Linked DNA regions of Homo sapiens. The protein of the gene in region 1 interacts with the protein of each later gene in a pairwise test. Each region holds a gene or a part of one and is shown in the gene's direction. Other genes may lie near its edges.

What was found.
Region 2: the proteins of CCDC88A (region 1) and EXOC1 interact in a two-hybrid assay, tested with the Homo sapiens proteins (2 studies listed by BioGRID and IntAct).

The regions. Positions count from the first base shown.
Region 1 is NC_000002.12:55,407,441-55,419,286, reverse strand, and holds part of CCDC88A (girdin), read left to right. Parts: 5' UTR 1-207; coding exon 208-270; intron 271-370; coding exon 371-471; intron 472-11,846. UniProt on the Homo sapiens protein: Bifunctional modulator of guanine nucleotide-binding proteins (G proteins). Acts as a non-receptor guanine nucleotide exchange factor which binds to and activates guanine nucleotide-binding protein G(i) alpha subunits.
Region 2 is NC_000004.12:55,887,215-55,904,194, forward strand, and holds part of EXOC1 (exocyst complex component 1), read left to right. Parts: intron 1-1,673; coding exon 1,674-1,718; intron 1,719-2,377; exon of another isoform or gene 2,378-3,008; coding exon 3,009-3,172; exon of another isoform or gene 3,173-3,312; intron 3,313-4,100; coding exon 4,101-4,208; intron 4,209-5,330; coding exon of another isoform or gene 5,331-5,339; exon of another isoform or gene 5,340-5,420; coding exon 5,421-5,497; exon of another isoform or gene 5,498-5,498; intron 5,499-6,337; coding exon 6,338-6,566; intron 6,567-9,502; coding exon 9,503-9,686; intron 9,687-12,470; coding exon 12,471-12,670; intron 12,671-13,620; exon of another isoform or gene 13,621-13,940; intron 13,941-15,129; coding exon 15,130-15,324; intron 15,325-16,980.

The DNA.
Region 1 (11,846 bases):
CGTCGTCGAAGCCACTTCTTGGGATTTCGGCTCGTTTCACTCTGGGGTGTTTTTTGAGGAGGGAGAGTGCCCCCCTCCTCCACGATGGGATTTTTCTCCCTTGCCGAAATGGACTTTCATTGATTTCTACTTACTTCCACGTTTAGTGACCAATTCCCTAGGCGTATTTTTGTGGTAGTTCCTTTTTTCAAATACATACTCTGTAAAATGGAGAACGAAATTTTTACTCCCCTTCTGGAGCAGTTCATGACCAGCCCTTTGGTCACTTGGGTAAGTGGGGTGTCCTTTATTGTATATTTTGCTGAGTTATTTGTGGCTGCAGAGATGGAGGTGGGCGTTCATGTCGTGGTGATCCTTCTGTTTGTTCTAGGTTAAAACGTTTGGACCTCTGGCCGCAGGAAATGGGACCAACCTTGATGAATATGTGGCTTTGGTGGATGGGGTATTCTTGAACCAGGTCATGCTCCAAATGTAAGTTCTTCCTTCTTTCCTAGGTAACGTTTTCTTTGAGAAATAGCATATGGTGAACTTTGAGACACGATGTTTTAAGCCCCTAATTTGGTTCATTGGCCAGAAATATTCAGGTGGTTTAAGAATTGGATCTTGAAAGGAATGCTAATGTTATGGGCTCAGCCCATTATCACAACCTAGATATTTTACCTGTTAAAATTGTGAAACTTTAGTTTTTCATTCTGTCAACCATGTATTGTCACTTGTCTTCAGTACTGAAATCCAAGCCACATTGTGTATTCTTTGATAATTTGGTAAAATAAGAGAGAAAATGAGAATCTGGTTTCCTAAGAGAGGAAAAAAGACTTTACTGTGAAGTTATGTGCATTTGATGCAGAAATGTTTCTTATTAACCTTTATATCTAGAAATAAATGGCTCAAAATTTGAAACTCGTTAAGTAATAGCAGATTTCAGAAGAGAAAATTTCAAACAGTTCTGATTGGTGAGGACTCTTGCTGTAGTAAATAATTTAAATGCCTGTAATAACTAAAGCCTGATGAGATGATTTATTGTGTGAATTATTAGGTTGCTTAATATTTTAGGGATCATTTTAAGGTATTCTTACAGGTTTTGAAATGCAAATAACAAGTCTTGATAACAATTAGATAACGACTTATTGGGCAAATCTTTGTCTTTTGTGTTTATAATATTGGGTTTGTACTAAGTAGGAAAGTATGCTTTTGAGATGGGAATTGAATAGTGAAAGTATATTGGTAGCTGGATCAGTAAAATTAAAACTCAGCTTTTATCTAATTACAGCTATTGTAGCATACGTGTATTCTAAGTACGCTAATGTAGTTTATCAAACTGAATTTTTCAGTTGTGCTCAAAGTAATGTATACTTAGTCTTATTTCTCTTTAATAGAATCTGATGAGAAGAGGTAGTTTGGAACTTTTATATGTATGGGAAATTGGTGTGTTATCAATAAATAGTTGTTACTAGAGAATAAGTCTACCATTCTGCTCTGATAACCTTATCAATTTTGTATTTTATTGGTTTAGATTTTTATGTTTAAGAGGGTAGAAGTCACATCTATAAAAAATTGCTCTCGTGTTAACTTCTCTGTGTGCTCAAAGAGATTTGTGGGCTGTTTTTCATGTACATGTTGATCCTACAGGGAAGTATTATACTATTATACATTTTCAACCAGTGTTTTGTTTTCATAGGCACCCAAAGAAATATATATGTTATCTAAATATGTATATATTTATTTTTTTCCTTAAGAAAGGAAAAAAGAGCGTAGACATCAATTATTTCCAGGGTTAGTAAATGTATTTTTGACAGCTGTGTAATGGAATTATTTTTTATCCTCAAAATATCTGACTATTTCCTAAGCAAAATGGTAGGATAATAAACTGACTTCTCTTTTGGGGAACCTACATGACAGAAAGGGTAGCCATTACAGTAGATACTCAGAATTTGTTCCCCTGTGTCTCTTTATTGTGCTTATTTTTAGACGGAAGATTTTGAATTTGTGTGCTAAAAATGTGTGTTCACAAAAATAGGGAAATATATTACTTTAGTTTTCCACTTTAATGGTTTTTATTTGAATGATTCTTTTTCCAGAAAAATTTAGATTTTTTTTTTGCATCCTAAATACTTAGCTGAGGTGCTAAAAACAAATACGTTAATTTCCACTTCAAATGCAGTTTTATGCTTAAAAAATATATGTATATTTTGAAAATGACGGTATTCCAAAATAGTGTTTGTCAGGTTGCTGTTTTTCATGAGGACTAGCTCCTTTCCAAACCACAAATCTGCTTCTGTATTTTCAGTTCCACCTCTCAGTTTCTTTAGATTTTTTTTCGGTGTCCTAATTCTGTTGTAAATGACCTATAAAATTAAAGGAAAAGAAAAGAAAAAAAAAGTATACTTTTGCTTTGTTTGAATAATTTGCTAAAATAAGATCAAATTTATCTTAATAAATTATTTAACTGATAGGGCAACAAAATATACATTGTTTTATAAGCTGTATTTTGCTAATTTTGAAGTCATTAGGATTTCTGTTAAGCACTTTACTTAGATTAATGTATGCTTTAATGTACTCTATTATAAAGTGTCAGTTGTAACTCTATACCTAGTAAATGTAAAAGTTAGGCCTAGTCTAATTTCTACAGTACATTTAGTTACAGAATTTGTGAGCAAGAACCCTTTGTAAATGAAACTATTTATATATTTTCCATGTTTCTTGTGCTTGGAATTCAATGAGTGTCTTGGATCTGTGGGTTTATAGTTTTTATCAAATTTAGAAAAGTTTCAGTCATTATTCCTAGAAGAAAATATATACATATATATATATATATATATATATATATATATATATATATATATTTATTTATTTATTTATTTGACCTCTTCACCCTTTTGGAAGTCCAGTTACATATATATTAGTAGCTTTGATGTTGTCTTAAAACTTACTGATGTTTAATTCAATTTTCTTTCAGTCTTCTTTGTTTCATTTTGGATAGTCTGTTGTGATGTCTCCAAATTTATTAATTTTTTCTTCTATAATGTTTAGTCTGCTCTTAATCCCACCCACCATATTTTTCATTCCAGATATTATAACTTCATCTTTAGAAATTGTCTTATATCTTCCATGTCTATGTTTTTCATGCTCTGTCTTTTCTCTAGCTTCTTGAACATATGGAATACAGTTATAATTGGCTTAATGTCTATGTCTGCTAATTCTGTCTGTGTCATTTTGGGGTTGGTTTCGGTTGATTGATATTTCTTCCCATTATGGATTCTGTTGCTTTTGCATGCCTGGTGATTTTTTTTTTAATTTGATGCCAGTCATTTGAAATTTTAGCTTGTTTGGCGCTGGATATTTTTGTATTCCATTAAATACAAAAATCTTGAGCTTCGTTCTGGGATGCATTAAGTTACCTGAAAACAGTTTGATCTTTTGGGGACATGCTTTTAAGATTTGTTAGGCAGTACTACTTTGTCACACTGTTGAGGCAAAACCCCTCTGAATACTCCAGCTGGTGGAAACAGGACCTACTTGGTGGTGTTCGCTCTCAGTCTTTTTGGTGGTTCTTTCACTATCTTTGGGTAGTTTCCTCACACTTATATTCTGATAAGTACTCAGACTTGAGGGATACCCTCTGCAGATCTTTCTCACTGTTCAACTCTGTTAAGTACTCTGCCCTGTGTACTTTAGCTACCTTGCTGTCTCCAGACTCAGTTCTGTCCCCTCAGCTCAGACCATTGTGCTCTGCCTGGATTCCCCTCTTCCTGTTCTGTGGCCTGGAAACTCTTTCAAGGCCATAATGCTGGAGCAGTTGTTGGATTCATGCTTGTTTCCCATCGATTGGGGATCACTGTCTTTTGTTGCCTGATGTCCAATGTCTTGAAAAACGTTTTATGTATTTTGTCTTTTTTTCCCCCCAGTTGTTTCAGGGAGGAGGGCAAATTTGGTCTCTGGCCACCAGTAGAAATATGTTTGTATACTTTTTTGTTTTTCAAGATGGGGTCTGGCTATGTTGCTCAGGCTGGAATATGTGATCATAGTGCATTATGGCCTCAAACTCCTGGGGTCAGGCCATCCTCCCACCCTAAACATCTGAGTAGTTGGGACTACAGGCACGCGCACCACAATGCCTGGCTGTTTATATACTTTTAATTACATTTTTGCTCTGCTAGTCTTATATTACTGCTTTTAGATGTGAGATGGACTTTTTTTATAGGAACCTTTTTTTTTTTTTTTGAAACAGAGTCTCGCTCCATGCCCAGGCGGGAGTGCAGTGGTGTGATCTCAACTCACTGCAAGCTCTACCTCCCGGGTTCACGCCATTCTCCTGCCTCAGGCTCCCGAGTAACTGGGGCTACAGGCACCCACCACCACGCCTGGCTAATTTTTTGTATTTTTTTAGTAGAGACGGGGTTTCACCGTGTTAGCCAGGATGGTCTCGATCTCCTGACCTCGTGATCCGCCTGCCTCAGCCTCCCAAAGTGCTGGGATTACAGGCATTAGCCACCACACCTGGCCAGGAACCTTATTATATAAGTTTTTTCATCTAAAATGTTTATTAAGACTAAGAAAATTGATTAATTTAATGACTCTGTTGTTGCTGTTTTGCACCCAGACTCTGAAAGTGAAGAGCTAACTTCTTCATGACACTGTTTACTGACTCTGCCTCACAATTTTGAAGTCTTTTCACTGACTTGAGATTTACTGTATTCAGAGATGAATCCTGAATTTCATTGAGTAGCTTTTTGAAGCAAATAATCTCTGTTAGAACTTGTAACATGACTTCAATCGTCTTAAACTAATGGGAAGGAAGAGGAAAGCTATTCAGAGATCTGGAATGATGGGCCAGCTCTTCTGTACGCTGTAGGGCATTTTCCTACTTCAGTGGATTGAAATCTTTTTTCTTTATTGTTATCAGTTGTAGGGCTTGGTGACAGTGAAGTAGAAATAATTATTTTCCTGTTTGAGATGTCATTTAATTCTGGAGCCAGTTTTGAATATTACTTGCTGTGAGTTTTTAAGGAATTTGTGACATTGTAGTTAATTTCATACTCCTAAAATTTTAAAAACGTCCAATTCATATTACCCAAACGGTTGAAAATATGGATGTCTTAGGATTTTAAGTACTGAGAAAATTGTTAATAGTATCAGAACAATATTTGGAATTATTATTTATGATTCAACCCTATTAGATAGTTATAGAGAGCTGTACTTGGAACACTTGGTAATTGTGATAAACTTGTTATGGCTTTTCCTTTAGAATTTTGGGTTTGAAGGGACTTCAGAAGTCATCTGCCCTTTTTTGTTTGTTTGTTTGCTTGTTTTTTTTTTTTGTTTTTGTTTTTGTTTTTTGAGACGGTCTTGTTCTGTTGCCCGGGCTGGAGTGCAGGGGCATGATCACCGCTCACTGCAGCCTTCACCTCCCGGGCTCAAGCTATCCTCCCACCTTAGCCTCCCAAGTACCTAGGACCACAGGCACGCGCTACCATGCTTGACTAATTTTTGTATTTTTTGTAGAGATGGAGTTTCACTGTGTTGCCCAGGCTGGTCTCAAGCGATCCACCCACCTCAGCCTCCCAAAGTTCTGGGATTATAGGCACAAACCAGCCTGACTCTTTGCTTGACTCTATTGACTAGGCTGTGAGTTTCCTGAAGCCAGGGACTCTATCTTTTGTCTCTGTATTCTTAGGACAGTGTTTGACACACAGTACATTCTTGATATATTTCTGTTGAATGATTGAATAATACAGCCATGTGTAGTAAAGTGGAATGAATTTGAGCCTTATGTCAGATAGACATAGACTTGGGTTCAGTTCTAGCTGTGCTACTTATTGGTATGTGAGCCTAATATCTCCAAATTACAGTTCCTACATTTATAAGATGGGAGATAATGTTTCCCTTCCTGATGGGGAAGGATTATCTACTAAGGCAGGGACAGATAAGTCTATTTTCTGTTTTGTTGACCCACTATATCCCCAGTGCTGGTTGCTGTCATTATTATTATCCTGTGCTATGCTATATCTACCTACTTATGGCTCCTCAAGTAAATCATGATAGTTCACAGCTTAGTTTTTTTGTTTGTTTGTTTGTTTTTGAGACAGGATCTCACTCTGTCACCCAGGCTGGACTGCAGTGGCACAATCGCAACCCACTGCAACCTCAAACTCCTAGGCTGAAGCAATCCTCCCACCTCAGCTTCCCAAGCAGCTGGGACTGCAGGCATGTGCTACTGCACCTGGCTAATTTTTTAAAATTTTTTTTATAGAGACCGGGTCTCACTTTTTTGCCCAGGCTGGTCTTGAATTCCTGGGTTCAAGTGATCCTCCCACCTCAGCTTCCCAAAGTGGCTGGCATTACAGGCATGAGCCACTGCGCCTGGCCGACAGCTTAGTTTTGTATGATCTCTGTTAGTGTCACCTCTATATAGCTGTATGATCTTTAGTAAGTTACTTAATTTGTAAGTGGGATAAAAAGTCACAGGATTGTTATGAGAATCAAATAGAATAATGTATGTACAATGCTTAACATATAGAAAGTGTCCAATAAATGTTAGCTCTTTATTGTTTTATTTATATTATTATCATTAGAATTATTTTCTTCAAGACCAGCGGTCCCCAACCTTTTTGGCAGCAAGGACTGGTTTCATGGAAGACGATTTTTACATGGAGCAAGGCTGAGGGGAGATGGTTTCAGGATGAAACTGTTCTACCTCAGATCATCAGCCATTAGATTCTTATGAGGAGAGTGCAACCTAGATCCCTCGCATCTACAGTTCACAATAGGGTTTGTGGTCCTGTGAGAATCTAATGCTGTTGTTGATCTGACAGGAGGCAGAGCTCAGGCAGTAATGCTTGCCCGCCCACCACTGATCTGCTGTGTGGCTTTCCTAACAAGCCATGGACCCAATCCATGGCCCAGGGGTTAGAGACTCCTGCTCTAGACTATCCTTCCCCTTTTCTTTGACTAACCAATTCCTGCTCTTCCTTTAATACCTTGTGAAGTCCCCAGGCAGAGTTGTTTTCTTCCTTATGATTCGGAAGTACCTTCACCTGCGTAGCTATTGCTTTGCAGTATTACTGTTTAGGGGCTAGATGTTTTGTCTCACATATTACTAGCACCTAACCTAGTACTTAGCATGTATCACTAGCACCTAGCATAGAAGTTGGCATGTCGTAAGTTGTAAGTAAATGTTGAAGGAATAAGTGAAGATAGCTGCAATTTTATTAATTTTCAAAATTTTGAGAATACCTTCTAGTTTTAGTACTGTAGAATTTAGTTTATTTTTTAGTTTGTCTTCTGTTTCTCCTTTTTGTTTGTTCTCTCTCTTTCCCCGTATTTGTTTTAATTACCTTTATTGGATATTTTTCCCACCGATGTTATATCTCCTTTGAGGCAAGGTGATAGGAGCAAGATTTCATGGTCCATGGTTTTTTATAGTATTAGAATATACAGTGCTTTCAGTTTGGTTTCCAATAACTTTCCTGTCCAATATGTTGAGTTTTTTTTTTTTTTTTTTTTTTTTGAGACGGAGTCTTACTCTGTCGTCTAGGCTGGAGTACAGTGGCGTGATCTCGGCTCACTGCAACCTCCTTCTCCCAGGTTCAACCAATTCTCCTGTCTCAGCCTCCTGAGTAGTTGGGATTACAAGGTGCCCACCACCGTGCCTGGTGAAGTTTTGTGTTTTTAGTAGAGACGGGATTTCACCATTTTGGCCAGGCTGGTTTCGAACTCCTGACCTCAAGTGATCTGTCCACCTGAGCCTCCCAAAATCTCATGCTGGGATTACAGGCATGAGCCACCGTGCCTGGGCCATGTTGAGATTTTTTTGTCCACAGCTTTGTATTGGACTGTCTTCAAGAAAAGTCCATTGTGATTGCCTCATTCTCAATATGATTCATATGTAGTTAAACTACAGAAATGATGAGAACCTAGAGAAGAACAGGTGAACTAGTTGTTATACCTGAGAGTATTTTTAAATTTTTTAACTGAAAATTTTCTCTTAATATATATTATGGGAGACTAGTTCTCACAGGATAAATGGAAAGGAAGACCAGTTCTTTCAAAAGGACACCAGCTGACTTTCTTTTAGGATCCATGAAACAGTTTGATACCATTCTAGGCATTAAGTTTTCAATATTCAGAAATAGTATTTGAGATTATACTTGGTACTGGGACATCTGTATAATACTTAATTTATTAATTAGTAAACTGGCTGCTTTTGGAGAGTCAGAGTGGTGGGAGGGCAAAAACAAAAACATGGGCTTGAAAGTTTAAATCCTGAATCAATCATTTAATATTTAGCTAGTTATTGAAACTGGAAAATTACTTTAAATGTTCTCTTTATTCCTGATTCTATTTTTATGCCTTCTTAGATCTATTTTACTAGTTTAATAATTTTTTTTTTTTTTTGAGACAAGGCCTCTCTCTCTTGCCGAGACTGGAATGCAGTGGCGAGATCTTGGTTCACTGCAACCTCTGCCTCCTGGGCTCAAACGATCCTCTCACCTCAGCCTCCTGAGTAGCTAGGACTACTACCATGCCCAGCTAATTTTTCTTTTCTTTTTTTTGTTTTTTGTTTTTTGTAAAGGCAGAGTTTTGCTGTGTTGCCCATTCTGGTTCCAATCTCCTGGGTTCAAGCTATCCACCACCTCAGCCTCCCAAAGTGCAGAGATTAGAGGCGTGAGCCAGTGTGCCTGGCCTACTTTAATAATTAATAAAAATAGGTGGATAAAACCCATCAACTTCACTCTGAGTGAGAGGAGATCTGCCCCTAACATTTGTAAGATCCAGGATAAGCATCCATTTACCACAATAGGCCTAAATATTTAAAGCTTATAAACCAGGCCAACAAATCATTATCTATATTCTAGTCTTTTCTCTTGATAAATATACCTTCATAATGACTTGAAAGTTTCAAATTTAAAATCTGTGGAATTTAGAATTCATAAATTCACAGTTTTGCAGCAGAGTGTGGTTAAGCCCAACCTCCTCCCGTCATCTCTGGCTCTTTCTAGCACCACAAAGAGGTCTCCTGTACATGCTGTGAACACCTTGCATGCACGCACAAGGTCTAAGCTCTTGTACTCCCATCCCCAAACAAGTACTCCTTGGCCCAAGGGTGTACACAAGTGTAGCACAGTCTTTTCTAAGGACAGACCTAGGAAAGAGGCCTGTGTGGGCCTTCAAATTGAGTTAGAAGTGCTTGGGCAAGAAATTGCAAAGTTCTGGGCACCTGGAGTGTCATTTAAAAGTGGGGAGGTAGGCCAGACTTGGGGGCTCACACCTGTAATCCCAGCACTTTGGGAGGCTGAGGCGGGTGGATCACTTGAGGTCAGGAGTTCAAGATCAGCCTGGCCAATATGGTGAAACCCCGTCTCTAATAAAAATACAAAAATTAGCAGGGCATGTTGGCGGGCCCCTGTAATCCCAGCTACTCGGGAGGCTGAGGCAGGAGAATCACTTGAAGCTGGGAGGCGGAGGTTGCAGTGAGCCGAGATTGCGCCACTGCACTCCGGCTTGGGTGACAGTGAGACTCTGTCTGAAAAAAAAAAAAAAAAAAAAAAGGGAGGTATATAGGCACATCCCCCTGTTTACATGGACTCCTCTCCCAGTGGAAGCATGTGGGCCGAGGAGGGCCGGAGTTGGACTCAGGGCAGAGCTCTCTCATCAGGATCTAAATGTAATACTCAGTGAGAGGGATGAAGGGCTAGTTCATTCAAAGATCAATTAATATGGGAATAGTTTCTAAGTACTTACTGTGTAATAAACTGTTAGATGCTAGGAATAGGATGCTTTGCCCACAATAAGGGGGAGGTGCATGTAAACAAATTGCAATGTGGTATCTGTGCCATGATAAGGAATTATGTTCTTGAGACAGTGTTCGCACAGAAAGGGAAGTGATGATTTACATGGAGGAAAGGCTTCTTGGAGGAGATGATGTTTGAGCTGGACATGAGAGCTCCGTAGGAGAAATCAGAGTGAACAGGAGTCATAAGTAGTGGGAGAGTGGAAGGAAGGACATTTTAAGCAAAGAAAATAGCATGAAAAAGAGGCATGAAGATGTAAATAACGGTGGAGGAATTAGGAAGTTTGAGAAAAGTGGAAACATTTTACAAGGCTGCTAAGAGGAAATCACAAAGAGTGTCAGTTAAAGATGAATACAAGTATTGTCATGCAGGGTTGATGGCTTATTTGAGATTTGGAAACCACACATTTGTAGTTGAGCCAGTGAGCATAGCATGGTTGAGTAACCAGTAATGCTTAGCTGCTCAGAAACTGACGAAAATACCTGTAGAATTTATTCAGAATTGGAAATTCTGAATAAACAGACGTGGGATGAGAGAAAAAACATACTACAGATTCTTAGCTGAATAGTTGAATAATAATGTGTGAGCATTAAAGTGAGGAAGAAAGCAAGTATCAGGAGGAACTTACAGAGTAAAGGTTGTGTTACTGGAAAGGGGTCCCAATCCAGACCCCAAGAGAGGGTTCTTGGATCTTGGGCAAGAAAGAATTTAGGGCAAGTCTATAAAGTGAAAGCAAGTTTATTAAGAAAGTAGAGGAATATAAGTATGACTACTCCACAGGCAGAGCAGCCATGAGGGCTGCTGATTGCCCATTTTTGTGGTTATTTCTTGATGATATGCCAAACAAGGGGTAGATTATTCATGCCTCCCCTTTTTAGACCATATAGGGTAACTTCCTGCCATTGCCATGGCATTTGTAAACTGTCATGGCACTGGTAGGAGTGTAGCAGTGAGGACAACCAGAGGACACTCTTGTCAGCATCTTGGTTTTGGTGGGCTCTGGTGAGTTTCTTTACTGCAACCTGTTTTGTCAGCGTGGTCTTTATGACCTGTATCTTGTGCCAACCTCTTATCTCAACCTGTGACTTAGAATGCCTAACTGTCCGGGAATGAAGCTCAGCAAGTCATAGCTTTATTTTACCTAGCCCCTATTCGAGATGGAGTTGCTCTGGTTCAAACGCCTCTGAGAGTTGTAATAAGAATGAAGGAAGAGTAGGTTAGAAGTGAGGGCATGAGAGAGGGTGAAAAGATAGGAGGTCAAGGTCAGAGTAGATTTTCAGAATTTGAGATTTTGGAGGTTGCAATTCTGAATAGTGATTAGGACCAAGATTAGACAGTACTAATGGGTGGATAAAATAGAATAAAATGAAGATACGTAAAGTGGAGAAGGAACTTTCTTCCTTATTTTTTTAATGAAACTATGATCTCTTGATTTAACACTAGAGGTAGAAGTTAGTATTTTGAATTAAAGTAGAAAGGGCCAGGCGCGGTGGCTCACACCTGTAATCCCAGCACTTTGGGAGGCCGAGGCAGGTGGATCACTTGAGGTCAGAAGTTCGAGACCAGCCAAGCCAACATGGTGAAACCCCGTCTCTACTAAAAATACAAAAGTTAGCTGGGCATGGTGGTGGGTGCCTGTAATCCCAGCTACACGGGAGGCAGAGGCAGGAGAGTTCCTTGAACCTGGGAGGTGGAGGCTGCAGTGAGCTGAGATCATGCCACTGCACTACAGCCTGGAAGACAGAGCAAGACTCTGTCTCAAAAAAAAAAAAAAAATTAAACTAGAAAGCTGGGCAATGAATAAATTAAGAAATAATGTAATAGTGGGGAAGGAAAAAAAGGTAATTGTTTATAACATTTTATTTTATTTTATTTTATTTACTTATTGTTTGAGACAGAGTCTTGCTCTGTCACCCAGGCTGGAGTGCAGTGATGCGATCTTGGCTCACTACAACCTCTGCCTCCCGGTTTCAAGCCACTTTCCTGTGTCAGCCTCCCAAGTAGCTGGGATTATAGGCACCCACCACCATGCCTGGCTAATTTTTGTATTTTTAG
Region 2 (16,980 bases), on another chromosome or scaffold:
GCCCTCCTTCCAATTTAATATTCCAAATCTTTAAAATAGCCAAGATTATTCTATTATTGTTTCTCCGCTAAACTAGGAAACCTTGTTGATTCCAAAGAGTCGTGAATACAATGCTGAATTCAGGGATGGCTGGAAGATTAACTCAATAAATATTTATAAATTACCTATTATCTAATAACTCACTGTTATAAGTACTGGGAATGCAGCAGTAAACAAAGACCCTACCTTTATGAAGTTTACATTCTAGTGGGGATTATATAAAGATATTTAACATTTTACCTGAGTGTTATCACTTGCTGATAAGGGATATAGGCTGTTTTATGAACCTCAAATTATAATTAATAGGCACTACTACTAAGTCTGTATTCCTTATTGACTACTAAAGAAAGAAAACTAGTCAGGCATGGTGATCCACATCTATAATCTCAGCTATATGGGAGGCTGAGGTAGGAGGATCACTTGAGCCCAGGAGTTCAGGTCCAGCCTTGTCAACCTAATGAGATCCTGCCTCAAAAAAAAAAAAAAAAGGAAACCATATAAAGAATTAGATTTTGCTCTGGCACTGCTGAACATAGCATAGTGACACCTTAAGGCACCAGAAAGTACTGTTCAGATTGGCTAGCTAGTAGCTCCAGCGTGATCCCTGTTTGCCACTTTAATGTCCAGCCTTGTTTTTTCATATTCCCTTGAGCTTCAGGTAGCCAAGGCTAGAAAGATATACCTGTCACTGATGAAGATATACCAGTCACTGATGTGACAAGATTTTTGCCTTGAAGCTTGGCAGGGATAATGTCAGTTGACACATCTTTTTGCTGTTTTAAAGATATTTTTAGGTTTTAGTTTTATTCTTTAACATTCTGTTTCATCCTATGATCTTTCTTCACCTTTCACATCAACTTCTAATTTGAGTATAGACTGTTTTTGCAAAATTAGCTCTCATATTGATCTAATAAATATTATAGAGAGAGAAGTTTTAGATAAAAGAAATGCCTAATGACCTAAAAAGAGTTCAAATTCTTATATTACATCTGTTCCCTAAACTTTACCCTTTTATTCATACATCTGATTGTTAGTGTTATGATATATATCTTTCATTCTGAGCACTCACAAAGCCAGTGATTAAGTAATTCAGCTTGATAATTAGTTTTAACTTTTCAGTGGTTTTAAAGCCCCACTCATATAATTTTTTGTTGGATATAGTATAAAATTATTTAGTCAGTGGAGAATCCTTTCAGGAGTTTTCAGGGAATACAAGATTGTTGACATCTAAATCTGCAGCTGCATTCTAATAAATTGCCACTTTATTTACTTGAATTATATTTTCTCAGGAAACCCAAACTTGCAAATTTAGTCTTTTAAATTTAAGTGTACCAGCTTAATAAACTTAAAAAAAAAAAACATTTTAAAGTGTAGGGGGGTTACACATAGATATTTCTACCTGAATATTTGAGTAAAAACAATACATTAAAAGTAAAGTTTTTTCTCTCATATAATTTCTCAAACAGTAGGTGACCAACTAAACATGTGTTTGCACTTCTTGTTACTTGATGCTCATGGTTCTTTGCATGTGTCTTTTAAACTAGAGCTTTAACTTCCTCTTGTGCATGGTTTGTGCAAATTGCAGTTTATTAACTTGTCTTTGTCTTTGATGCTTGCAACCTAATCCATCACAGCTACACTGCCTCGAAAAGAAAGTGCTGTCAAACAGGAAACAGAGAGTGAGTATGCTTAGTGTATTAGTAGGTATTCTCAATGCATGTTTGTTTAATGTCTAGAAATTAGTTGTCTTGAAAAAAGGTAACACCAAAAATTTTGATTGCTCTGAATTGCCAGGTATTGGTGAAAGAAAGCCAACATGATGGTAGTGATATGGCTGTATCCAAGAAATATATGATATAGTTAAAATTACTTGACGAGTAGTAGAACATTGTGTCAGAAATTTGTGAAAAGACTTAACCATTATACTTCTATTTTCAGGCTGTTTAGAAACTATAAAAAATCTTATATAGATATGGTCGGATTTTACATAATGAAGCCAAAGTTTATCTTTAATTGTACCTGTTCTGTCTTCATTTGTCTTTTCTGACCATTAGCAAATAGTACAAGTTAACTGAGAGATATTCAGGAAGGATGTTTTTAAAATATATTAGTTATTGTTTATGTTTAATTCTGAATAAAAATATCACATTTTCTTCTAAAAATCAAATCCTTTAATTCCTTGGTGTATGTGAGCTATTGCCAGCTATATGTTCTCATTTTTCCTCATGGCTATGACGGATACCAAAATTTTACCTAAACACAGATGTCCCATATTAATATGATTAGTGATGTATGTATTACATTTCGGCTGTATTTTAAATATAACGAGTTTTCAGGGTGTTTTTTCTGTTCATTTTATTTAGTTTTTAAAGGACTATAATCAGTTCACTTACTGGAAAAGCAGTTTCAGAGTTTGGAACATACTAAGTTGAATCATATGTAATTGACTTTTTTTGGTAGGGCAAAATGATCAAGTATGGGCAGTTTCATGTGGTTCAACCTAATATATTGATTTATTGTGGAGGTAACATTGAGATGCAGCAGTTTTCTTCTGAAGTATAACAAAGTCATGCTGGCTAATATGCTAACGTGGTCCTCATTGACCTTCATCCATATTCCTGTCCTTTTGAATGGAAAAGAAACCCTCATCTACTTTAGTCTAGCGATATCACCAGGCGACTTTATGAAATGGGCAGGTTATAGACAATATGCTCCTTAAGGTCCCTTTCAGTCCCGTTCTATGGATCTGTGTAGTTTCGCTTCTTTTTTCAATATGCTCAGAATTAGGACACCAATGTTAATGGAAGATAAGGAAACTATACCACCTATCCCTTATAGAAGATTTGTGCACTAACTAATATGAGCCCTGGAAGATCAAGCCAGTAGAAGATAGAAGATCTATCCCTGCTTTATACTTTGGATCATTTATTTGTGAAGATCACAACTTTCAAAGTTTTATTATTTCTTAGGTCTTCATGGAAGTTCGGGGAAATTAACTGGATCTACTTCTAGTCTAAATAAGCTCAGTGTTCAGAGTTCAGGGAATCGCAGATCTCAGTCATCTTCCCTGTTGGATATGGGAAACATGTCTGCCTCTGATCTCGATGTTGCTGACAGGACCAAATTTGATAAGGTAAACTAAAATAACAAGTACTTCTTAAACATTAACATTAGTTTTCTAACAGCAGTTTGTGGTTGCTCTAAGTGTGTTCAAAGATTTGGGTTCTTCTGGCTCTCTTAAGCATTAACCATGTCTTTCCAACTGAATCGAATCTGGGAAAAAAAAAAAAAAAAACTAGTCAAAGGACAAGTAAAATGTGAATTATCAATGAAATGGCATAAAAGCTTTATTAAAATTTGTTATAAATCATAAAATGCTTATATCTCAAATCTAAGTTGTTTGGGCACCTAAAAAGTAAGAGGAAATAAAAGCTTTTGTGATGCTGGCCTTTCTCTGTACTAAATTAAATAAGTTTTTTTGTTTGTTTGTTTTTGAAATGGAGTCTTGCTCTGTCACCCAGGCTGGAATGCAGTGGCACAGTCTCAGCTCACTGCAACCTCCACCTTCTGGGTTCAAGCAGTTCTTCTGCCTCCCTCCCAGGTAGCTGGGATTACAGGTGCCTGCCACCACACCCAGCTAATTTTTGTATTTTTAGTGGAGATGGGGTTTCACCATGCTGGCCAGGCTGGTTTCGAACTCCTGAGCTCAAGTGATCTGCCCGCTTTGGCCTCCCAAAGTGCTGGGATTACAGGCATGAGACATCATGCCTGGCCATAAATAAGTTTTAAAAGTTGATCTTTGTGCTCCTCTTTCCAGATGTGAAGTGAATAACTGTGAGTTTTATTTTAGGTTTATTTTGTGGCCTTGTTATACCTTGCTAATACCATTGTCCTGTAGATCTTGGAAGAGTTTGTTTTTGGGATTCCATTGAGATTATAAATTCATAGATTAGTGAGATTATGGATCCATGGTCTGTGCAGAAAAGAAAATTAAATGTGGAGTGTTATTTTAAGCATTTGGTGCAGTTCTTTCGTTATAGGATCACTTTGGTTTTCTTCAGATCTTTGAACAGGTACTAAGTGAACTGGAGCCCCTATGTCTGGCAGAACAGGACTTCATAAGTAAATTTTTCAAACTACAGCAACATCAAAGTATGCCTGGAACTATGGTATGGCTCACAGTGTATTTTGGATAGTATTTATGATCTGTAATATAATTAGCTTAATTAATATGTGGTCACAATTTTATGATCAGAAGAGAAAAGGAAAGAATTTATCATGTAAGGATTTTTTTATGATGTAAGGATTTAGGATGTAAGGAATTTTTGTAATACCACAAGATGATAAAAACAGTGACAGATGAAGTTTGGGCATCTAATTTAATATTTCAGAATATTACAAGCCTAAATATTCTCTAAATTAGTGGGGGGAGGAATGTCTGAGTTTACTTTGCAAAGAACATTATTTAAAAGGCTAGTTTAACATTTTAGTAGTCATCAAGATAAATATAATGTTTTAAAATGATGTTAGAGTGTATACACTTTGGTATACCAAATAACAATAATGATAAATAAAAGAAAATGAGGCCTCAGATTTGCCTTCCTTGTGGCTTTGTTACTAACTAGCCATGAGATCTTAAGCCAGTTATTCGATCCCCAGCTTTCCTCTTCTGTAAAGTAGATATCATAGTGCCTATTCAGCATGCCTTTCTGGTAGCATACATATAAGAGAATAAGATGAGAGAGTTTCTTGAGTATTTTGAAGAACTTAAAAACAGTGCAAATAAAGTGTTTTTTAAATTATCATCTCAAAATTGTATGCCACAGACAACCAACTTATAAAAGCAGTCATAAAATAAATGAGAAATGGATTATGATAAATGGTTTAGAGTGTTCATTGTTATGGTAGTAATGGTGGCAAATTTGTTTATTTGTTGGCCTCTGTAAGAATTTTTTATAGCATTTTTTTAATGCTGAAGTTCTATTAGAATAATTGATGAGATTTCCTTAATTTTTTAAATTCTCTTTTGAAAGTTGTGTTTGGACGTTTTCTATTTTTGTGGTGGTTGTTGTCAAGCTGCCCCCACTCCCACACCTTGCGTTCAGCTTCCTGTACCTCCCTACTTCCCCTCAGGTGCACACACAAATACAACTTCTCACCCCACAAAAGTTCTTGGATAAAACCTAAGAAGAGTATCTCATGAACATTCTTAAATAGCATACTAAATTATATAGCTAGCTTTATCATAATGCTACCTTTAAAAATATTTTTCATAATGTATTCTTTCCTAGGAATTTTAAGACTGAGCAGGCTTTTGCTATATCAATACTAGTCAAATTGTTGGTCTTTTATTATGTAAAGTGCCTGAATAATTTTTGCAGGCTGAAGCAGAGGACCTGGATGGAGGAACATTATCACGGCAACATAATTGTGGCACACCACTGCCTGTTTCATCTGAGTATGTCTTTGTTACTATCATTGTTTATTTTGGAAAAAATAAACTTTAAAATGTGGAGTGCTGCTCATTGAGGGGTCTAGATGTTTCTCAGTAGCCTGACAGCACTCACAGTACCAGCATGTGTGTCCATTGTCTTATCAAACGTTTTACTGATTTAAAATAGGGCCTATTTTATGGCTCTTCAACTCTTCCTTGCTCCAGGACTTACAGAAGATGAAGTCAGTCTGTTGTTTGCTGGTAGGGGGAAGCCTTTGAATTGTAGTGTATTTCTTAGAAATCACAAAGCACATTTCATGACCCAGCTTTACAAATTAAAACTAATTCAAATGATAAAACCCAACATCAGTAAAATATTTTTATATCAAAAACTACTATAATCATATTTAGACATTTTTATTTGTTTTTTGTTGTTGTTGTTTTCTGAGATGGAGTCTCCCTCTGCTGCCCAGGCTGGAATGCAATGGCGCCATCTCAGCTCACTGCAACTGCACTTCACCTCCCGGGTTCAAGCGATTCTCCTGACTCAGCCTCCCAAGTAGCTGGGATTACAGACATGCACCACCACGTCTGGCTAATTTTTGTACTTTTGGTAGAGACAGGGTTTTACCATGTTGGCCAAGCTGGTCTTGAACTCCTGACCTCAGGTGACCTGCACACCTTGGCCTCTCAAAGTGCTGGGATTACAGGCGTGAGCCACCACGCCTGGCTATTTAGACATTTTTAATTGAAATTTAATTATGGTATTTTTGTCCTTTTGTATATACCCAGTGGATTAAAGTTAACGGTGAATTCACCTGAAGCTTGTTATAACTTTATACTTCTTGTCTGTTTTCTGAACAGGAAAGATATGATCCGCCAAATGATGATTAAAATATTTCGCTGCATTGAGCCAGAGCTGAACAACCTAATTGCATTAGGAGACAAAATTGATAGCTTTAACTCTCTTTATATGTTAGTCAAAATGAGTCATCATGTGTGGACTGCACAAAATGTGGACCCTGCTTCTTTCCTAAGTACTACATTGGGAAATGTTTTGGTGACTGTCAAAAGGAACTTTGACAAATGCATTGTAAGTTTTCTTTTTTAAAAAAATACCTTAGCATCCTAGTCATTGCAAAATATAGGTAAATGTATTTAAAATCGAGGGATTTCCAGCTTTCTGTTGGGGAATCTGTTGTTTATGTCCCTCGAAGCAGGGCATGGCAACAATCTACATGAACAGAGTTAGTTGGGTGGCACTATGCCAGCTAGTTTCCATTCCACACTGTGAATCTTGGCAAGTTCTGGAGGAAGTGGCACAGTGGCACCAGTTGCTTAAGAGATCCACTGGAGGCCAGACGCAGTGACTCACACCTGTAATGCCAGCACTTTTTAAGGCCGAGGTGGGCAGATCACCTGAGGTCAGGAGTTCGAGACCAGCCTGGAGAACATGGCGAAACCCCATCTCTACCAAAAATACAAAAATTAGCCGGGCGTGGTAGCACATGCCTATAATTCCAACTACTCGGGAGGCTGAGGCAGGAGAATTGCTTGAACCTGTGAAGTGGAGGTTGCAGTGAGCCAAGATTGCACCAGTGCTCTCCAGCCTGGGTGACAAGAGTGAAGACTGTGTCAAAAAAAAAAAAAAAAAAATCTACCGAATCACTGACATCTCAGTTTATTAGTCAATGACCATTGATTTAATGAAACAATTGAAACAATCATTTGGGTTTATTGTTATTGTTCTTCTTTTAATACATTCTAGTAAGAAAACTAATTTGATTATTTTAATTATTTAATTTATTTTAATAGTTTAGTAGCTTTAATAATTGTATTTTATTTTAGGAATAAATTGTTATAACTGAGCAATTATCATTTTCCTCCTAATAGAAAAAAATTTGACAACTTTCTTACTATCTGTTACTTTTTTTTTTTTTTTTTTTTTTTTTGAGATGGAGTCTCGTTCTTGTTGCCCAGGCTGGAGTGCAACAGTGCAATCTCGGCTCACCGCAACCTCCGCCTCCTGGGTTCAAGTGATTCTCCTGCCTCAGCCTCCCGAGTAGCTGGGATTGCAGGCATGCGCCACCACGCCCTGCTAGTTTTGTATTTTTAGTAGAGATGGGGTTTCTCCATGTTGGTCATGCTGGTCTCAAACTCCCAACCTCAGGTGATCTGCCCACCTCAGCCTCCCAAAGTGCTGAGATTACAAGCAAGAGACACCGGCCATCTATCCATTACATTTTTTATACTTGTATGTATGAATTGGGCTAGGCCAGGTTAAAAAATGCTTCATGAACACTTCTCAAGGCATGGCACTAGAGAAGGTAATCTAGACAAAGATATAAATTCATATTTTCTCATAAGTTGCATATATATATATAAAGGACATAGGTTTGCCACTGAAGAGGAGGGTGGTTTCTTCTGCCTGTCATACTTCTGTATATCTTATTTCAATAATGTCTTATTTTTGATAAGATCTTATCTCTCATTTATGAACACTGGTCAATAAGATCAATAGACAGCATTTATAAATGAGTGCTTACTGTGTACCAGGCACAAGTCTGGGCACTTTGCACACATTATGTCATCTAATCTTAAACCCAGCCCCTCAATAAGGTAGATTGTTTGAGAGGTGAAGTTACTTTCCCCAGGTCCACAGTTAAAAAATATGGATCTTGTATTCAAACCCAGAAAGTCTGGTTCTAGTACCTGCAATCTTACCACTACCTTTTCTACTGCATCTGTTTTTCACCTCACAGTTACCAATACTGATGAAGTAGAACATTAGTACAGATAATATGAAATAACTGACTATACTCTTAGGGTTTTCTTATACTAATGTCAGAAGCCTAGAGATAATTATTTTTCTAATCCATGTGTCATATGGTTTTTGAGTTATACTCCCCAAATCTCAACACAATGAAATGTTAGGTAGAAGCTGAAATAATACAAAAGTATTTGGCAGTGTAATCATTCCTACTGAGTAGATTTAGATCCCTTCAGAATCATAGAACCATAATTGAATCCGTGGATCGTTTTGAACCTAAGATTCTGTCTGCATGAAACATTTCTTTCGCATTTTGTCATATAATGCACAAGCAGTTTGTGGAACTAAGGCTAAGTGACTAATAAATATATGGAAAATTAAATAATGCAAATCCATATGGAAATGCCTATCCTCCCTCTTTGTTTCTGTACTCTGAAAATAGAGAGTTTGTCTATCCAGACAGAAATTTTAGACTGACGAAAATTGGAAATGACTGTGGTTCTCAAACTTGACCACGTGGCCACCAACCAGAAGTTACCCGGAGGGATCCTATAGGTGCTCTGGAATCTTCTCTCCTGTAACCTAAAATCAGTAATTGCCTTGTACTCATCTTTCATAAATGGTAGAAATGTGTGTTGACTGTTTTTACTTTGTACAGAGACTTGAAGTTCACGGCCTTGATTGTATTTTGTTTTGTTTCATTTTATTTTTTGAGACAGTCTTGCTCTGTCACCCAGGCTGGAGTGCAGTGGCGCAATCTTGGCTCACTGCAACCTCTGCCTCCCAGGTTCAAGCAATTCTCATTCCTCAGCCTCCCAAGTAGCTGGGATTACAGGCATGCACGACCCCACCCAGCTAATTTTTTTTTGTATTTTTTGTAGAGACGAAAATGGCCAGGCTGGTCTTGAACTCTTGGCCTCAAGCGATCCACCCACCTTGGCCTCCCAAAGTGCTGGGATTACAGGCATGAGCCACCGTCCCCAGCTTATAGATGGTTTTAAATAATCTGTATTATTTTGATTTTCTTAAACTTACTGTAAAATGGTTTTATTATCTATAGAATTAGTTTTTCTTAGTTATCCTTGTTTTGATTCATCTTCAATTAGTAAGCATCCAAAGTGTTCTAGGTACCACATAATATCCTGCCTCTATGATATCTATGTATATATCTATATCTCCATCTATATATTTTGTTATGATTATATGTAGTTTTAAAGTTGCTTGGTTATTTATCTCCCTTGCTCTCTGCCTAACTTTAGAGTAACCAAATAAGGCAAATGGAAGAAGTAAAGATCTCAAAAAAGAGTAAAGTTGGAATTCTTCCATTTGTTGCTGAATTTGAAGAATTTGCTGGACTTGCAGAATCAATCTTCAAAAATGCTGAGCGTCGTGGAGACCTGGATAAAGCATACACCAAACTTATCAGAGGAGTATTTGTTAATGGTAAGCTTTTGTTATGTTCTAAAGAATTGTTATAGCTATTGTTTTTATTTCTGGTAACTAAGAAATCGGGAGCAGATAGGTTCATTATTTTGTATATCTTATAATCTTTTTTAGGTTTTCTAACATTAAAGATTTCTTGAATTTGGAAAATAAAACCTATTTGTATTCATTATGAACCACTTACATTTTAGGGTTTATGTGGGCTTATGACTATGCAAAATTGAAAATCTTTTTTTTTTTTTTTTAAGATGGGCCTCACTCTGTCGCCCAGGCTGGAGTGCGGTGGCATGATCTTGGCTCACTGCAACCTCCACCTCCCAGGCTCAAAAGATCCTCCTACCTCACCCTCCCAAGTAGCTGGGACTACAGGTGCACCCTACCATGCCCTGCTAATTTTTTGTAGAAAATCATTTTTTAAACACAAAAACATGACCTTCCAGATTACATTTGCATTTTAACAAGTGGTCTTCTAGAGATGATGGGCTGTGATGTGTGTGTAACCTTAAGCAAATCAATTCACTTATTTAGGACTCAGTTTTTCATATCTACTATACAAGGAAATTAGTACTAAAATACAAGAGAAATTAGTGCTGAAATACTGTAATTCGCTTTCTTCCTGTGTCAGATCCCACAATTAAGTTACAGAAAAGTCTGGACATGTCATTTCATCTGAAATAAATGATCTGATTGCATATATTCAGGAATTGTAAAAGCTAAAAAATTGATAGAAAATGGAATCATCTCACCAATTGTTGCCCAGGTTGGAGTGCGGTGGCATAATCTCGGCTCGCTGCAACCTTCACCTCCCGAGTTCAAGCAATTCTGCTGCCTCAGCCTCCTAAGTAGCTGGGATTATAGGCAGGCATCATCACGCCTGGCTAATTTTTGTATTTTTAATAGAGACAGGGTTTCACCATGTTGGCCAGACTTGTCTCAAACTCTTGACCTCAAGTGATCTGCCCGCCTTGGCCTCCCAAAGTGCTGGGATTACAGGCATGAGCCACCGTGTCCAGCCTTGATTTTTTCTTTTAAAATTCAAAGTAGCTTTGCTTTATCTGATTCTAAAGTAATGTGGCTAGGCACAGTGGCCCACACCTGTAATCGCAGCACTTTGGAAGGACCAGTTGGGGGATCGCTTGAGCCCAGGAGTTCAAGACCAGCCTGGGCATCATAGTGAGGCCTTGTCTGTACAAAAAAAATTTAAAAAATTAGCCAGACGTGGTGGTGTGTCCCTGAGTTTCAGCTACACAGGAGGCTGAGGCAGGAGAATCATTTGAGCTCAGGAGGTCAAGGCTGCAGTGAGCCTTGTTCATGCTACTGCACTCTAGCCTGGATGACAAAGCCAGACCCTGTCTTAAAAATAAATAATAAATGAATGAATGAATTCATTATTCGTTCTTTATAAATCTTTATAAACTAAAACTTATAAAACTTAAGAACAGACAGATATTCCTTTAATTGGATAAAAAATCTATCTCAGGCCTAAAGGTTACATGATACTTAACTGCAACAGTAGAGATATTCCCTCTGAAATGAATTTAAAGCAGAAGTATTGTTAGATCCTTTATTATTTAGCATTGTTATTGAAGTGCTAGCCAGTACAAGACCTGAAACATAAATAACTATTTATCCCCAAAAATCAGCGAATAGAATTTTCAAATCAAGAAGAAAGTAAAGATCATTTTTAATCTTGTTGTACAGAGATAATGTTAAATTTTTATTCTTCCAAACTTTTAAATTCCCTGTCCCTCTCTTCTATATATGGGCATATTGTATGTGTGCTTTCTTTAATATAAAAGTGTTGTCATACCTGACACACTATTTTTGAAGCTGCTGGACTCTATATAATCTTAGTATCTTTCTTAGTTAGTTAATATAGATAAACATAATCATTTTTAATGATTGCATAGTCATCCATATGTCATTATCCATTTACCAAATCTTCTATTAATAAACATTTAGGATTTTTTTAGTTTATCTATCTTTGTATACTTGTCAAATAATTTCTTTAGGGTAAATTACTAGAAATGGAATTACTGGGTCAAAGGATTTATGTATCTCAAGTCTTTTCCCAAATTGTGATACAGAAAGCTTATGTCAGTTTAGTGCTATGAGCAGTTGCATTACAGCTGTACCAATGCTGGGTTTTACTAGGTATTACCAATCTTTTTATTCTTTGTCAACCTGATAGGCTATAAATTATCTCACTATTTTATTTTGCATTTCATTGATTTTGTATATGGTGTCTTTACTTTACATGAATTTTCAAATTTTATCTCCAATTTATTTATCTTTCCCCTTAACAGTCTTCTAAATTTTGGGCCATTCTTAGCAAGGTCACACTATTGCAAAATTATTATTTTTCTATTAGTTATATTTTCTTTAGTACTTATGATTGTATTATTTGTTTGCTTTTTACATTTTAAATAATTTAGCAATTTAGAATTTGACTGCAAGATGTAAAGTAGGAACTTAAATTTCATATATTAAAATGGTCCAGCCGGTTGTCCTAACACATTTTGAATAATTCATCATTTCTCCATTGATCTGAAAAGCTACTTTTATTATATACTGAATTTCCATATACACATGGGACTGTTTTAGGATGACTTTTTATTATGATTAGGTAGATCTGAAGACTCCCATTACAATATATTGTATTAAGTCCAGAAATGTGCTTAATTCTTAAACTTACAAATGAAAAAAAATTAATAGTATAAATGTTTATAGCTAAATATGGTCATACTCAGAGATGTTATTTTATTTTTTCTGTTTTGGTTTTAGTGGAGAAAGTAGCAAATGAAAGCCAGAAGACCCCCAGGGATGTGGTTATGATGGAAAACTTTCACCATATTTTTGCAACTCTTTCTCGATTGAAAATCTCATGTCTAGAAGCAGAAAAAAAAGAAGCCAAACAAAAATACACAGATCACCTTCAGTCTTATGTCATTTACTCTTTAGGACAACCTCTTGAAAAACTAAATGTAAATATATTTTCATTCAGTATTTTTCCTACTTTTGAACCTATACACATAAGTTTGCATATGAATAACCTGCAGACATTTATCTTAAATTTTCTCATGTGTTGGTGCACAGGGGACTCAGTTATTGAAGCTGCCAGTGTGCCAGACACTGCTAGATGCTATATATTTTATTTCTTCTTTCTGTACATTATTTTTATACATTATTTATCTACTATATTTTAATGATAATTGTACTAGTATTCTATTATGCATTATTTCTTTTAATTCTTATAAACAATGATGTGTAAGCTAAGATAATATTATCCCCATTTCACAAATGAAGAAACTGAAAGTAAAAAAACTTGCCCGACATCATAATAGCTTATAAATTACAAAGCTGGGGGATGAACCTAGATTAGGCTTTGCCGTTACTCTTTCCCATTTCTTACTTTATAAATGACCAAGTTTACAATGTCTAGGTGGAAATTTCAAAAATATTATTAAGATAAAAGAAAAACCAAAAATTGCTTTCTACATTGCCTTTTACTTTTCTTTCCCTTCTTTTTTTTTCCTTACTTGAGTCATTTCCCAGAGTAAGTCTGTTAATTAAAGTTAAGAAATGATGATTTTAGGGAACTTTACAAGATAGTGAAAGCTTAAATGAACCTTTTAAACTAACTTTGTCTGCAATATAGTTATCTTTTATAAGCTCTTAACTTGAAGTTAGAGTAAAATAGCGCGGTGACTCACACCTGTAATCCCAGCACTTTGGGAGGCCAAGGCAGGCGGATCACGAGGTCAGAAGATCGAGACCATCCTAGCTAACAAGGTGAAACCCCGTCTTTACTAAAAATGTAAAAAAAAATTAACTGGGCGTGGTGGCACGCTCCTGTAGTCCTAGCTACTTGGGAGGCTGAGGCAGGAGAATCACTTGATCCTAGGAGGTGGTGGTTGCAATGAGTGGAGATCACACCACTGCGCTCCAGCCTGGGCGACAGAGCAAGACTCAGTCTCAAAACAAAACAAAAAAAAAGAATATGTATCTGCTGTCAACAATTCAAAGAAATACTTGAAAGACATTTAATCAAATGCAGAACTAATTCCTTATAAAACTTAAGAACAGACAAATATTCCTTTAACTGGATAAAAGATCTATCTCAGGCCTAAAGCTTACATGATACTTAACTGCAACGTTAGAGACATTCCCTCTGAAATCAATTTAAAGCAGAAATATTGTTAGATCCTTTATTATTTAGCATTGTTGTTGAAGCACTAGCCAGTTCAACAAGACCTGAAACATAAATAAGAGATATGGAAAACAGAGACGAGATTATCACCACCTGTATATGATATGTTGAAATTACTGGTGTTGGTCAAGTGACAAAATTTAAAGCAAATATACTGAAAAACAATGTATTTCCTGTCTACCAATTAAGAGCTTATGTAAAAACAAAATTTTTAAAGCACTAAGAATAACTTCTCAAAGAATGATAATTTAATGAATAATCACTAAGAAAATTTTAGAAAAAAGTAATGAGAGGGAATGGGGTTTGTCAGCATTAATTCTTTGTATCGTGCTCAAATACAGTTATGCCAGTCAATAAAAGTATATATATAAAAGAAGACCTGGGAATAATAGTTACAATAATATAACAGAGTCAGTATATTTAATATAAAAAATCTTACTAAAATCAATAAGAAAAGCACTAAGACCCCAATTTATAAATGGGGCAAGGGGCTGAATCACTACTAAACATATAAAAGCAGGTTAACCTTATTTATAGCCAAAGAATTATAAAATAAAATGACAAACTTTTTTTACTCTGGCAACTATTGTTATAAATTGTCATAATGCTTATGATGGTATAGTGAAGTAGCAACCTCATACACTGTTGACAGAAATATAAATTGGTTGAGCTTTCCTAGGAAGCAGTTTGTATATATACTGAAGAATCTTTCAAATACTTAAAGTTATGCTCTTCAACAGAGTAATTATAGTCCTGGAAATTTAATCAGTAAGATGGGTAAATACTTATATACAAAAAAAATTTATGACAAATATATTTATAGTAGATTTTCTAAAGTCTCACTAGATTTGCCAAGTCCAAAAAAAGAAGGGGGAGTGGGATGTTAAATATCTAGTACTAGAGGAATGAATAATAATTGTGGTTCAGTCATTGTGTGAAATATTATGCAGCCATTAAAATTTATATTTAGGAAAAAACAATATTAAATGTAAAGTGGGACATGAAATTTTAATCTCCTGTATGTATTCACACATCAAAAGATTACAAGGAACTCTACAATATTAACAATGTTCATCTCAGAAGTATGTTAATAAGTGATTGTTATTTTATTGTTTATACTTTCACACACTGATTTTTGCATGGTGATTATACACTACTTTGTAATCAGATTTTTTTAATGTAAATAATAATAAATGCAGGTCTTAGCCATTGTTTCTTTTCATTTCCTTGAAGCATTTCTTTGAAGGTGTTGAAGCTCGCGTGGCACAGGGCATAAGGGAGGAGGAAGTAAGTTACCAACTTGCATTTAACAAACAAGAACTTCGTAAAGTCATTAAGGAGTACCCTGGAAAGGAAGTAAAAAAAGGTCTAGATAACCTCTACAAGAAAGTTGATAAACATTTATGTGAAGAAGAGAACTTACTTCAGGTATGCTTACTTCTTTTGACCATCTGACTTAAAGATCCTTACATATATTGCTTTTCTTTAAATAATTTTCTAGAAATGCTACAGATCTAGAGCAGGAGGAGAGTTCCATTAGAGTACAGACCAGATTAATGAATTGTGAGGAAGAAAGGAATACTGTTTATATAAGCATATATGGCTATTTCTGCTTATTTCGTATTTCTGCTATATTATGGTGAGGCATTAAGTTTGTTTTTCTTTGGTTGGTTGGTTGGTTGGTTGGTTGGTTGGTTGAGTGGTTGGAATTAGAGATGGGTTCATAATCTGGCTCCAGATTAAGCTGTGTGACTTTGGGAAGTTACTTAACCTCTCTGAGCCTTAGTTTCCTTATTTGATAAGTGGAAACGATACATCTCTTGTACAGTAGCCACTGTATTGGGCAACATAGCAAGACCTTGTCTCTACTAAAAATTAAAAAAATTAGCTGGGCATGGTGGCACGTGCCTGTAGTCCCAGCTACTCGGGAAGCTGAGGCAGGAGGATCACTTGAGCCCAGGAGATTGAGGCTCCAGTGAACTATGATCCTACCACTGCACTCCAGCCTACGCAACAGAGTGAGGCCGTGTCTCAATTAAAAAAAAAAAAAAAAAGAAAGAAAGAAAGAAAAAGAAAGAAAGAGAAAGAAAGAAAATCAGCTTAGAGAGGTGGAGTAATAGGACCAAGCTCTCTTAACTAATGGGTAGTGGAGCCAGATTTAAAGTCCAAATTAGGCCATTATTCTTTATAAACCATATTGAAAGGCCCAGATATGAGTGAGAGTAATTCTGATTTCAACATCATGGAAGACTTCCTGAGGGATATTGCATTGTTTGTTTTAACCTCTGAAAGTCAGATGTACTTGAACAGGCAAAGTGGGGATGGAGGGAGTAGCATTCTAGAAAGAAATAATATGAGCTAAACGATGAAAAGTAAAAAGCATAACACTGCTTAGGGAATAGCGATTGGTCTTAAGTTGGCAGGAATTTAGGATTTATGAGATTTAGGATTTACAAGAAAAAATCTTGGAAGAATACATTCCCTCAGCTGTCAAATAGGGAAGATGATCATAATACCCACCCTCACCAGGTCATCATGAGACTTAATACTATAATATATTCATAAAGTGCTTTGTACTGTGCTGATAAAGAGTAAGCTTCAATTAATGTAATCTATTTAAGCCATTATGTCAATGTGTGTATCACATTGTGTCTTGGTAATTGTCTACATATTAGCCTCCACTGTTAGATTATAAATCACATGATTGCAGATAATGGGTCTGAGTCATTTTGCTGTCCTCCAAGGCATCAAGCAAGGTTTTGCATCAACAATTTTAGATAAAGAAAACTTTAAATGTTATAGGAAATGAAATTAAAGCATTACATTTTATGTAATCACTAGTCTTAGTTCTATACATAATTGTGCATATCCACATCTGTGTTGCATATTGGAGTATATAAGATAATAGCTAAAATGTCATGAGTGCTTACTTGTGTCAAACGCAGTTTGAAGCACTTTATGTACATTTCTTATTTAATTCTCACAGCATTATGAGGAAGGTCTTATTATTATCTTGGTTTATAGATGAGGAACTTGAGGCATAGAGCAGTGATGTCATGTACTGAAGGTTACAAATCTTGTAGG